Homo sapiens: one gene and its partners. The protein of the gene in region 2 purifies or fractionates together with the protein of the main gene of each other region. This does not show direct contact. Each region holds a gene or a part of one and is shown on either strand. Other genes may lie near its edges.

The links.
Region 1: the proteins of MED16 (region 2) and CDK19 purify together in Homo sapiens (affinity purification with mass spectrometry; 8 studies listed by BioGRID and IntAct, with this or other methods). This does not show direct contact.
Region 3: the proteins of MED16 (region 2) and MED9 purify together in Homo sapiens (affinity purification with mass spectrometry; 5 studies listed by BioGRID and IntAct, with this or other methods). This does not show direct contact.

What each region holds. Positions count from the first base shown.
Region 1 is NC_000006.12:110,813,849-110,817,595, forward strand, and holds the start of CDK19 (cyclin-dependent kinase 19), read right to left. Parts: upstream 1,622-3,747; 5' UTR 1,289-1,621; coding exon 1,161-1,288; intron 968-1,160; exon of another isoform or gene 769-967; intron 1-768.
Region 2 is NC_000019.10:886,452-890,198, forward strand, and holds part of MED16 (mediator of RNA polymerase II transcription subunit 16), read right to left. Parts: coding exon 3,686-3,747; intron 3,357-3,685; coding exon 3,187-3,356; intron 1-3,186. UniProt on the Homo sapiens protein: Component of the Mediator complex, a coactivator involved in the regulated transcription of nearly all RNA polymerase II-dependent genes.
Region 3 is NC_000017.11:17,479,984-17,483,730, reverse strand, and holds part of MED9 (mediator of RNA polymerase II transcription subunit 9), read right to left. Parts: intron 1-3,747.

The DNA of each region.
Region 1 (3,747 bases), on a different chromosome or scaffold from region 2:
CTGATCATCACTTTATTCAGAAATGGTCCGTTACAATCCTCTTCCGTAGAGTTTGACTCTCTTTAAAGTCTATGCTGGACAGGGCATCTTCCTGGGTCCCTAGCTTTGGGGGAGGGTAATTCCTGCCAGGAAGCTGGTTCCACCAGTCCTGCTGTAGCTGCTGTCTGCCCTCCAGGACCAAGAAAGGACAGGTATTCTCAGTACATTATCCAGCTCTTCTTAAGAGGACAACCAGTAAAGGCTTCCCAAGGTGTTCCTACAGTTCTCCCTCAACTCCTAGGAAAACAAAGGTTCAGGCCCAGCTCTGTCACTTCGTATTCCGTTCTTGATAATATAGGTACTCCATAAGCCCCAGCCCACAGTCATCTGGCAGAGGATGGAGTGGAGGACATAATACCCAAGATACCCAAGGGGCTGCAAGGTAAAGGGTGGGTAGCAGAGAATTCAGCCAACTCTTAAGTTGCCGCTTGCGAAACGCAGCTAGCCCATCAGGTCTCCTTCGAAGGGGGAAGGTACGCAATTCAGAATGTGAGAATGAGAAACCCGGGACGCCGGGCATACAACAGGGATGGGAGGACTGCATAGAGAAGCCAACGGGCCGGCCAGCCCGAAGGGCGGAGATCGCTGCTGGGGGCGGCGGTGCCCAGCGGGTCAGAGCCGTGGGGCTGGCGAGGACCCCAGGCCGCGTTCGCCCGACAGGCTCCCCGGCGAGGTTTCAAACCGCCGCCCCCGCGAGGCGCTCAGCCGATTGGAAGTTCCACAACGACCGTCACTACCCAGGGCCGGAGCGGCAACTCCGCAGCGGAGCTCTGCCTGCCCGCTGCGTTCCCCCAAGAGACTAGACCCCACAAACTCCTCCTCCACCGCGGTCCCAACTCGAGTCCCCCCGCCGTCTCCGAGCACTCGGAGGGCGCCCCTCTGGGACGGGACCGACGCCTCGGACCGGGCTGCGCCGCGGGAGTTCGAGGTACGCGACGGGGCCGCGCGGGGGAGGCGGGCGGAACGGGCGCCCCTCGGAGTCGGTGTCCGGACGCAACCCCGCGACCCCCTCCGCCTCGCCCCTCGGGCACGGCCCGACTGGGATCCGACCCACCCATCCCGCCAGGTCGCGGGCAGGGCGAGGACCCGAGCGAGCCTACTCCTCCCGCCCCTGCTCTTACCCATCTTTCCGCCTCGCCTTGTAGACGTGACCGTAGGTGCCGCGTCCCACTTTGCACCCTTCGTACTCAAACAAATCCTCCACCCGCTCCCGCTCCGCCGCCAGCTTCGCCTTGAAATCATAATCCATTGTCTGCTTCCCCCATAGAGGCACGGGACGCGGGGGCCGCCGCCGCTCAGTCCCTCCTCCTCCTCCCCCCGCGACCGCCGCTCCACTTCTCCAACAGCCGCCTCTCGCGCGCGCGCGCGCGCCGCCCGCCGCCCGCCGCTCCGCGGTCCGCCTTCAGCAAGGGACTCCTCGGCGGCCACAGCAGCCACCTCCTCCACCTCTTCCTCCTCCTCCTCCGCGACGGCGGCGGCGGCTCCCGCAGGCACCCCCAGTCCCGCCTCCCTCCTTCATTTCCTTGTTTTGGAACCTGGTGGGCCGCGCCGTGGCTTCCTCGAGCTCATTAGCGAACTCACTGGCCCGCCCCATGGTCGCGGAGGCTCCTGGGAAATGAAGTCGCGAAGGCCTCAGCGGCCTGGGCGGTTTTGCCGGCGTAAGAAATACAGCTCCCAGGTTACCTCGGGCCACCACAGCCTCGCCCCCACAAAGCATGCGCGCCTGCGTACCAGGGCCGCCCCTCCCCCTCAGGTAGCGCACGGCTCCCGGTTCCTGTGAAGGTAGAAAGCTCGAAGTTCCAGTGTGCTTTCTGCGGTTCTCGGGGAGACACTGGAAAGAAGTGCCTTACTCTAGTGGGAAGGGGATACTTCACTGTAACTAGCCCCACGCAGAGAGTATGGAAAGCATTAAATCAGCACCTTGCTGAAGGGTTGGCTGCAGTGACTCGGGAGGCGAGGGCTGGTGAGGACAGTTGTACCGCAGCTTGTTTCTTTTCTAGGGCAGTGGGTCCGCCTATTGCCCCGCCCCCCGTCCCGCTGCTCATTGGCGGGGGCTGGAGAATGACGTCCTCGTTGGTGCGTGGGTATCCCCAGGCTTTGGCTTCTTTCCCGCTCTTGATTGGTGATTGGATGTGCTCGGTTCTTCCTGATAGGTTGATCTTTTTTCTTTACGATGCAAAAACCGTATTTCAAAAACTGAACCTTCAGCAGTTTCCTAGAGCCTGCCTTGGCCAGAGGAGAACATGCAACTTCTGAGCCCCAGCAGCCAATCATCATTTTCTTGGCGCTGTAGTCAGCTTTCTCTTAGCATATGCGGTTCCCATAACCAGGCTTTGGCCATCTGTCTAAGGACAATTAAAAGTGCCTGGAGGAAGCCGCGTTTACGATCCTTTGGGTTGAATTGTAAAGGATTTTTTATGGTCTATGCATGATGTGAGGTTCTAGAATGTTTAAGAAAGCCCCTTTAGTTAGGGTGAACGTTGATTGATTTCATTGTGTTGGGGCTCAGGACACACTACCCCAAATTATAACTGAAGGAGTCCAGAATATGCCACCCCAAAATACGCCACTCTGGCATATTGATGTCTTTTAGCAAAATAAATTAAGATCCAGCCAACACAGGAAAATGCTTCACTTATCCCACTACTGCCTAAAATAAAGAATAACTCTTCCTTTGTAAAGAGAAATTTACATTTCTAAAGGAAATTTTCGTAATTAAAGGAATCTTACCAGAAAGAGAGCTGCTGCTAGTCAACTTGTATCATCTGAGATACTTTTATCTGCATAAAAGTCAACCTTTATTCACCTTAGACATTTTTTCCTCTTATCCTCTCTTAACTTGTCTCCACCACTCCTGGAAGCCCCAAACCCCACTTTTGTTTTGAAGAGACTGGCCTTGCTGTGTTGCCCAGGCTGGCGTCCAACTCCTGAGCTCAAGGATCCTCCTGCCTCAGACTCCTGAGTAGCTGGGATTACAGGTCCGTGCCACCATGCCGGGCCCCACTTCCTTTTTGAGGTCAGGATGTAATATAAGTGTCAAACATCTGGCCCTTCTTTGAGTCTCATATTTTGTGGGACTCTTGTGCATACATACGTAATTAAAACTTTTTCTCCTGTTAACCTGACTGGTATCAATTTAGTTTATAGACCAGCTGAAGAACCTAAGAGGGTTTCCTCCCCTGTAATGGTGAGCCTAATGTCCCAAATGTTTGGGATACACACTTAAACATGATTGGTGCTAGGATAGGACATAACACATTCATTAGGAGGACAAAGAAGGGAATTGTCAATTCTACCCAAAGTGGTAGATAAGGAAAGAATAGTGAACTGCCTGCTAGGTTTTGAAAGAAACTTGGAAAACTAGTGGGAGGGGGAATGATTTACCTTATTTGCTACATCACCCACTCCTGGAAAACTTCCTTAGACCTTGAGTCTCTTCAGGCTGGGTGCAGTGGCTCACACCTGTAATCCCAGCACTTTGGGAGGCCAAGGCGGGTGGATCACGAGGTCTGGAGTTCAAGACCAGCCTGGCCAAGACAGTGAAACCCTGCCTCTTATTAAAAATGCAAAAATTAGCCAGGTGTGGTAGCATGTGTCTGTAGTCCCATTTACTCGGGAGGCTGAGGCAGGAGAATCCCTTGAACCCGGGAGGCAGAAGTTGCAGTGAGCTGAGACCATGCCACTGCACTCCAGCCTGGGCAACAGAGC
Region 2 (3,747 bases):
GTGCGCAACGGGAGTCACCTCCCCTTTCTGTAAAGGGACAGACAGCAGCATGCTCGGTTCTGGGAGCCAGGTGGTCCCTGTTGCAACGACTTGGCTCTGGCTCTGCCGTGGCGGCACACAGGCAGCTGGTGCCAATGAGCCACACTCACAAACCCAGGCGGGGGCCGTCAGGCCCTGGGCCGCACTGTGCAGACCTGAGCTATAGCACTCAGGAAGTGCTGTGTAAGCACCAGCGGCTGCTGCGGGCACTATTTGATTTCAAATCAAATTTGTCAAGTCATTATTGACATACGGAAACATCCACCCTTCTTTCAACGTGAGTCTTTTAAAAGATGGGGTCTTGGCTGCGCACGGTGGCTCTCGCCTATAATCCCAGCACTTTGGGGGGCTGAGGCAGGTGGATCCCCTGAGGTCAGCAGTTCAAGACCAGCCTGGCCAACACAGTAAAAGCCTGTTGCTAATAAAAAATACAAAAAAATTAGCCGGGCATGGTAGCGGGTGCCTATAATCCCAGCTACTCAGGAGGCTGAGGCAGGAGAATTGCTGGAATCCAGGAGGTGGTGATTGCAGTGAGCCGAGATCACACCATTACACTCTGGCCTGGGCAACGAGAGCAAAACTTTGTCTCAAAAACAAAAAAAAAAAGAACAAGAAAAATGTCTCTACGTTGTGAAAAAATGCGAGGAAGAGAAGTGTATCATACGTATCGTACGGCTCCATTCTAAGTTACAAGTTAAAAAAAAACACTTCTTATAGCAAGAAGCAGGTCCAGAAGTCCAGGAAGCAAGCCAGGCCTGGTGGTGAGGGGTTGCCATGGCGACGACTCATCTGGTGTCCACACCACACGTCTGTGTGGGTCGCAGGCTGGCATGTCTGAGACTATGTTAAAGGAGCACATGTGCCTTTTATTAATGTAATTAAAAAACAAAAATTTGGCCGGACGCGGTGGCTCACGCCTGTAATCTCAGCACTTTGGGAGGCCGAGGCGGGCAGATCTCAAGGTCAGGAGTTCGACACCATCCTGGCCAAGATAGTGAAACCCCGTCTCTACTAAAAATACAAAAATTAGCCGGGCGCGGTGGTGCGTGCCTGTAATTCCAGCTACTCGGGAGGCTGAGGCAGGAGAATCACTTGAACCTGGGAGGTGGAAGTTTCAGTGAGCCGAGATCGCACCACTGCACTCCAGCCCGGTTGACAGAACAAGACTCTGTCTCAAAAAAAATGTATTTGGTTATTTTAAAAAGCGAGGCTCTGACTCAGGCCACAGCGGGGATGCACCTTGAGGACATCACGCTCAGTAAGAGATGCCAGACACAGAAGGCTACGCAGTGTGTGATCCTGTTTCTATGAATGTCCAGGACAGGCAGATCCAGAGAGACAACTGGGTCTCGGGGGCTGGGGTGGGGGATGGATCAGGGTGATGCAGGATGGGGACTGGGTTTCCTTTTCGGGTGATGAGAAGGGACTGAAGCTGGGCACAGTGACTCACGCCTGTCATCCCAGCACTTTGGGAGGCCAAGACAGGCAGATCACCTGAGGTTAGGAGTTCGAGACCACCCTGACCAACATGGAGAAACCCGGTCCCTACTAAAAATACAAAAAAGCAGCCGGGCGTGGTGGCGGGCGCCTGTAATCCCAGCTATTCAGGAGGCTGAGGCAGTAGAATCGCTTGAGCCCGGGAGGGAGAGGCTGCAGTGAGCCGAGATCGCGCCACTACACTCCAGCCTGGGCAACAGAGCAAGACCCTGTCTCAAAAAACAAACAAACAAACAAAAAAGATAAAGGTCTGGCCGGGCTCGTTGGCTCACACCTCTAATCCCAGCACTTTGGGAGGCTGAGGCAGACGGATCACCTGAGGTGAGAAGTTCGAGACCAGCCTGGCCAACATGGTGAAACCCCGTCTCTACTAAAAAATTACAAAAATTAGCCAGGTGTGGTGGTGGGTGCCTGTAATCCCAGCTACTCAGGAAGCTGAGGCAGGAGAATCGCTTGAACCCAGGAGGCAGAGGTTGCTGTGAGCCAAGATCGCATCACTGCACTCCAGCCTGGGGGATAGAGCGAGACTCTGTCTCCAAAAAAAAAAAAAAAAAAAGATAAAGGTCTGAGGTTAGCTATGGTGGTGGCCGCACAACATGGCGAGTGTATACGAAACCTCTGGACCGTGTGGGCTGCACACTCTCAATGGGTGAGTTCTAAGGTCTGTGAACTCCATCCCGACAAAACTGTTACCAAAAACAGGAAATACAGACAAACGGGGACCGCAGGGTGGGGAGTGCACCCCGGAGGGCCCCCGTGGCACGAAGCCGGTGCTGCGTGTACTGCGGCAATGCGCCGACAATGGCAGTCCCTGGGGAGGGACTCACGAAGGGACGAGAGAAAAGATCTTGTCCACTGCATCCCTCCAGGAAGGCCTCCTAGTTCCTGCGAGAGCCCCAGCACAAGCAGACGCACAGAGGCACGAAGCTGGGGTGGCTGTGAGGCCTTTGCCACGAACATCCCCGAGACCCTGCCGTCAGTGAGGAAACTGACACACAGAGGTGAGGAGTCAGAGCCTGAACCCAGGTGCCCCCCCAACCCTGGCCACGCCTACTCTTAACTGTCCCCCCCAACCCTGGCCACGCCTACTCTTAACTGTCCCCAACCCTGGCCACGCCTACTTCTTAACTGTCCCCAACCCTGGCCACGCCTACTCTTAACTGTCCCCCCCAACCCTGGCCACGCCTATCTTAACTGTCCCCCCCAACCCTGGCCACGCCTACTCTTACCTGTGGGGCCGAATCACAGGGAGCATAGAGAGGGGCTCTGGGATGTTACTAAATCAGAGGGTGGGCTGCATTCAGAAGACAGCAGCCACCAGTTATACATGCAGCTACCTAAGGACAGTAGCCTCCAGTGAAAGAGATAACTCACTAAGAACGGCCACCCTCAGTTAAATGAGGGGCCACTGAACACGCAGGTGCCAATGACAGCCAGACTGCAGGTGGGGGCCAAGTGAACAGCCACCCTCAGTTAAATGAGAGGCCACTGAACACACAGGTGCTAATGACAGCCGGACTGCAGGTGGGAGCCAAGTGCAAGGTCCAAAAAACCAGGGGATGCTGGTGATGGAGAGGAGAGGGGCTGGCGGGTGGCTGGGTAGGGTGACATCTCATCTGCCTCATCCGCTCACTCGGGCAGGACACTCACCTTCTCCACGTGCAGGGCCAGTTTCACACCATTGTGCAGCCAGGACAGGGCCACAATGGGGTCCCCCTCCACTAGGCTGCCCACTGAGCTCTCCCAGCTATTAGCCAGGTGGTCCGCCATGCTCCAGCACTTGATCTGCCCGTCGGCATCTGCTGACAGGAGCCGGGAGCCTGAGGGCAAGAAGCCATCATTGCGAACCTTCCAGGGATGGGCAGAGCACTGCGTTGCAGGACGGCACAGCGCCTGGGGGAAGCCAGCCCAGTGGAGAGGTCTCGGCCCAGGTAGGGCACAGCAGGTGGCACAAGGCGCACTCCAGAGATGCCCTGAGACACCCTGAACAAGAATGATTCGGGCCACTATGGAAAGAGCAGCAGGTGCAAAGCTGCAGACCAGGGGCTCTAGACCCAGCGCCGGACTCCAGACTGACCGGAGAAACACAGGGCCCCCCTGCTCCGGGATCCGGGTCGCCACCCCTGGCCACGTGGGACCAGCGCCTCACCTGACTGGTCCCACTCCAGGCAGGTGATGGCCTCGTGGTGCTCTGAGGGGATCGAGTGCAGG
Region 3 (3,747 bases), on a different chromosome or scaffold from region 2:
TCCTGACCTCGTGATCCACCCGCCTCGGCCTCCCAAAGTGCTGGGATTACAGGTGTGAGCCACCGTGCCCAGCCTCCCTTTCCTCATTCTTTAAAAATAACATAAATGTGTAGTTTAATTTTTCATTCAACTGCGGGAAAGACACTAGAAGAGATGAAAGTGCTATGGGTTCCAACTCCAAGCAGGGCTGTCCCAGCCAGAGCACTCCCAGAACCAGGTGGGTCCCTGGGGGTACAGGAGAGGCTCTGGTTCACAGGGCTCTGTGCAGCATTTCTGTGGGCACTTCTAGTGGAGGGGCTGGAGGGTCTGCCAGCCTGGAGGACTCCGCCCACCCAACAGCACCTGCAGCAAGAGGACCCTCTGTGGGCTTTGTGTTGGGTTATTCAGGCAGACAATCTGAAAATGGTCTGCAGAGATCCCTGAGTAAAGGCCTAAGTTTGGGCTCAATTTGAGAAGAATGGAGAACAAAGAAAAATTAGCCAAATAACATTCACAAGATAAAATAAGCATAAAGGCAAAGAGACTAATTAAATGCTGATTATAATACTCAAAAGCGAGGCTCAACGACCTGGCCAATGAGTAGTATCAACAGGCTTGGAAGTAAAGAAGCAGATTAAAGACGAAATGTTCCATTAACAAAAGCATCATGATCTAGCATCAGGCAGGCTGCTAGAAAACTCCACGGGAAAGGAAGGGCCAGGGAAATACTGACAAGAAAGAGGAAGGGTGAAAAATTAACCTTAAAAGATAATTAAATGTACCATGAAGATTTAAGAACTAAAATAGTTTGGTGCTGGAGAAGGAGAGAATGTCCATAAGTAGATCAGAAAACATGTGGGAATTCAGTGCATGGTAAAGGTGGCACTGCAAGCAGGGAAAATAACAAATATTCAAAAACAGCAGTGGGAAGATGTGGCTAACCGAGGCCCCCTTATTCTTCCCACCAAAATAAATTCCAGGAGCCTCAAAGAATTACAAGTAAAAAATGGAACCATGAAAGTTCTAGAAAAAAGAGATCAATACCTATAATTTTAGAGTGGGAAAGCCTTTCTAAGTAGGACCAAAACTCAGAAGCCATAAGGGAAAGGCCTAACAAATCTGACTACATGAAATTATATGCATCTGAATGAAAAACAAATAGAAAAACCATGACTATGAACAAAGTCAAAAGAAAAGCAACAACCTGGAGGAAGTATTTACAGTACATTTGACACACATTATTTCCTTTCTGTACATAAAAAAATCTAACAGAGAAATGGACAGTTTATAGGGAAAAATAAAAGTGACATATAAAATCGCCTATGAAGGGATGCTTTACCTAACTTAATGAAAGATCAATATATCATTTCTGACCTATGAGATTTGCCAAAGTTAAAAGTTTAATGGTGATGGCAGGTGATGGGGAAAGACACAAAAACTGTTGGTGGAAGCATAGATCAGGGCATTCTTTGCTCATAGTGACCCAAACAGATTCACATATCCCATTGCTAGAAATTTACCCCCACAGAGACTACCAAGAGTTCACCAAGATAGCATGGGCAAAGATGCTTGCTGCAGTGCTGATTCCAACAGCAAAATGCAGAAACAATGACGGTGTCCTTGAGCAAGAAACTGTTTACATAAACGACAGCACGTTCATAAAGTGGAATATTACACAGCTTTGCAAGGGAGCTGGGAGGAGTGAAGGGAGAGGCCCTGTTTCCATTTCATATCCATGGGTACTTGTAGAATCCGTCTACAACTTTAATTTTTGTTTAATGCTTTCTGGGTGGCAGATTTATAGGCCATTTTAGGTTAACTGAAGCAGTCTAGTCTACAAGGACTGAATTTTGGAAAAGAGTTAGCTAAAAAGACGTAGTGCTCTAAATTTAGCATAACTATCACTATAAAAAATGTTTGTACCCTATGCCCCAGCAATTCTACTGCTGGGATTTATCTGATCATAAACTTACTCCTACACAAAGATGCTAACCCCAGCACTGTGCTGGTAATAGCAAGAATAAGAAAAACAGCTAGAAGACCATCAACAGAAAACCAGTTCCATCAGTTATGCTGCATCCACAAGATGCAATTTTCTGCAGCTGCCTTAATGAGGTAGATCTTTATGTGCAGTATGGAAAGGTGGCCAAAAGAGACTAATCAGTGAAAAAAGTCAAGTACGACGTGATCTCAATTTGTATAAATTTTTGAAATGACATTCATATGTAATTCCCAGAAGGAACTTAGGAAAGTATTAACAGCAGTTACTACAGGTGAGGGGACTTGGGGGAAGGAACACATTTTCCATTTTACGTTTCTCTGTACTTCTAAACTTGCAGTTGTTACTTTTATTAAATAATTTTTCAAAAACTCTGAATTCTTTATGAGAACAAGAAAGGCTAAATTCACTACTTCAGATTTTACCTCCTTACTCACCCCTGTGCAAGAAGTAAACAAAGAATAAAAGGATCATTGGGGAAGTTATAGGAAAGGAAGGGACCCAGGGCCAGAGAGCGCCACCTGGGTGGACCGGACATGGTCCCAGCCCTCATCTCCACCCGCCAGTACTGTGTCTTGACTGGCTTCCAGCCTGACAGTTTCACTAGCTCCCCATCCCTCAGAAGACACCTGCACTCTGTTTCCTGGCTCTTCCCTCCTCCCCAGCCACCTCTTCCTGCCTTGGATGTATGCTCAACACCACCAAGCTAGAAGCTGACTCCCATGAGTAGATGCTATTTCTTGGCTTCGTGTCCTTACATGTTTTTCCTATACCAACATTCCTCCTGCCTCCCTTTCCTAATTGAAGACTCATTGTTGGCATCACTCTTACCAAGCCTTCTGACTCCCCCAGGCTTCACGAGGTCTCCTCTCCCTTCCTCCTCTGCCCTTATTCCTCCCTCATTTGCCTATAAACTCAAAGACACGCCTATACTGAAGGTTTGCAGGTTGGATCCTAGCCTCTTCTCATGTTTACAGCTGCAGAACCACTCCATTCCTTTGTGGCTACTGTTTCCTCCACGTGGCTTTTTCTGCTCTTCTGTCTTGTCTTTCTCTTTTTTCCTCTCTCTCTCTGTCTCCTCTCTTTCTTTCTTTCTTCTTTGAGACAGAGTCTATGTCACCCAGGCTGAAGTGTAGCAGTGCGATCATGGCTCACCGTAGCCTCAGCTCCCTGGGTTCAAGCTATCCTCCCATCTCAGCCTGCCCAGGTGCTGGGCTTGCAGACAGACATGAGGCACCGCGCCTGACCCGTGTCTTTCTTACCAGGGGGTTTCTTCCTATGCTTAGTGACCTTGGCCATCCACTCATATATTTAAGAATAAAACACTAAAAGGCTTAGTGGAAGCTCTGCAAATGAGTGATGCTTGTTCATTTTCTCAGAATTAATTGACTAGGCTTTTTTTTTTTCCAATGTCTTTTCTCTTAATTGGTCACGCACCATAGAGAGGGCACTTCCACTCTCTTTGGCTGCCAATCTAGAAGCCAGGTGGGGGAAGGCTCGGGTGGTGTCTCTCTTCAGACTGTGAACTTTCTCTTAATCCCTCTTTTCAGTATGGCTCCCCCTACCTACCCCTGCAGTGTGCCTGGTGTCCCACAGTCAAGGTACTCTCTGGCTTATTCCTTCCTAAGAATAAATCTCGGGAGAGTAACCTTTTAACCATCTGCCAAGTTGGAAGAAGGGTAGTCACCCGGCCGCTTGGAGGGGATGGGAGGTGGGACAGGACTGTGGGGACCTGCTTCTTAAACAGACTTCCAAGTAATCTTCCTGTT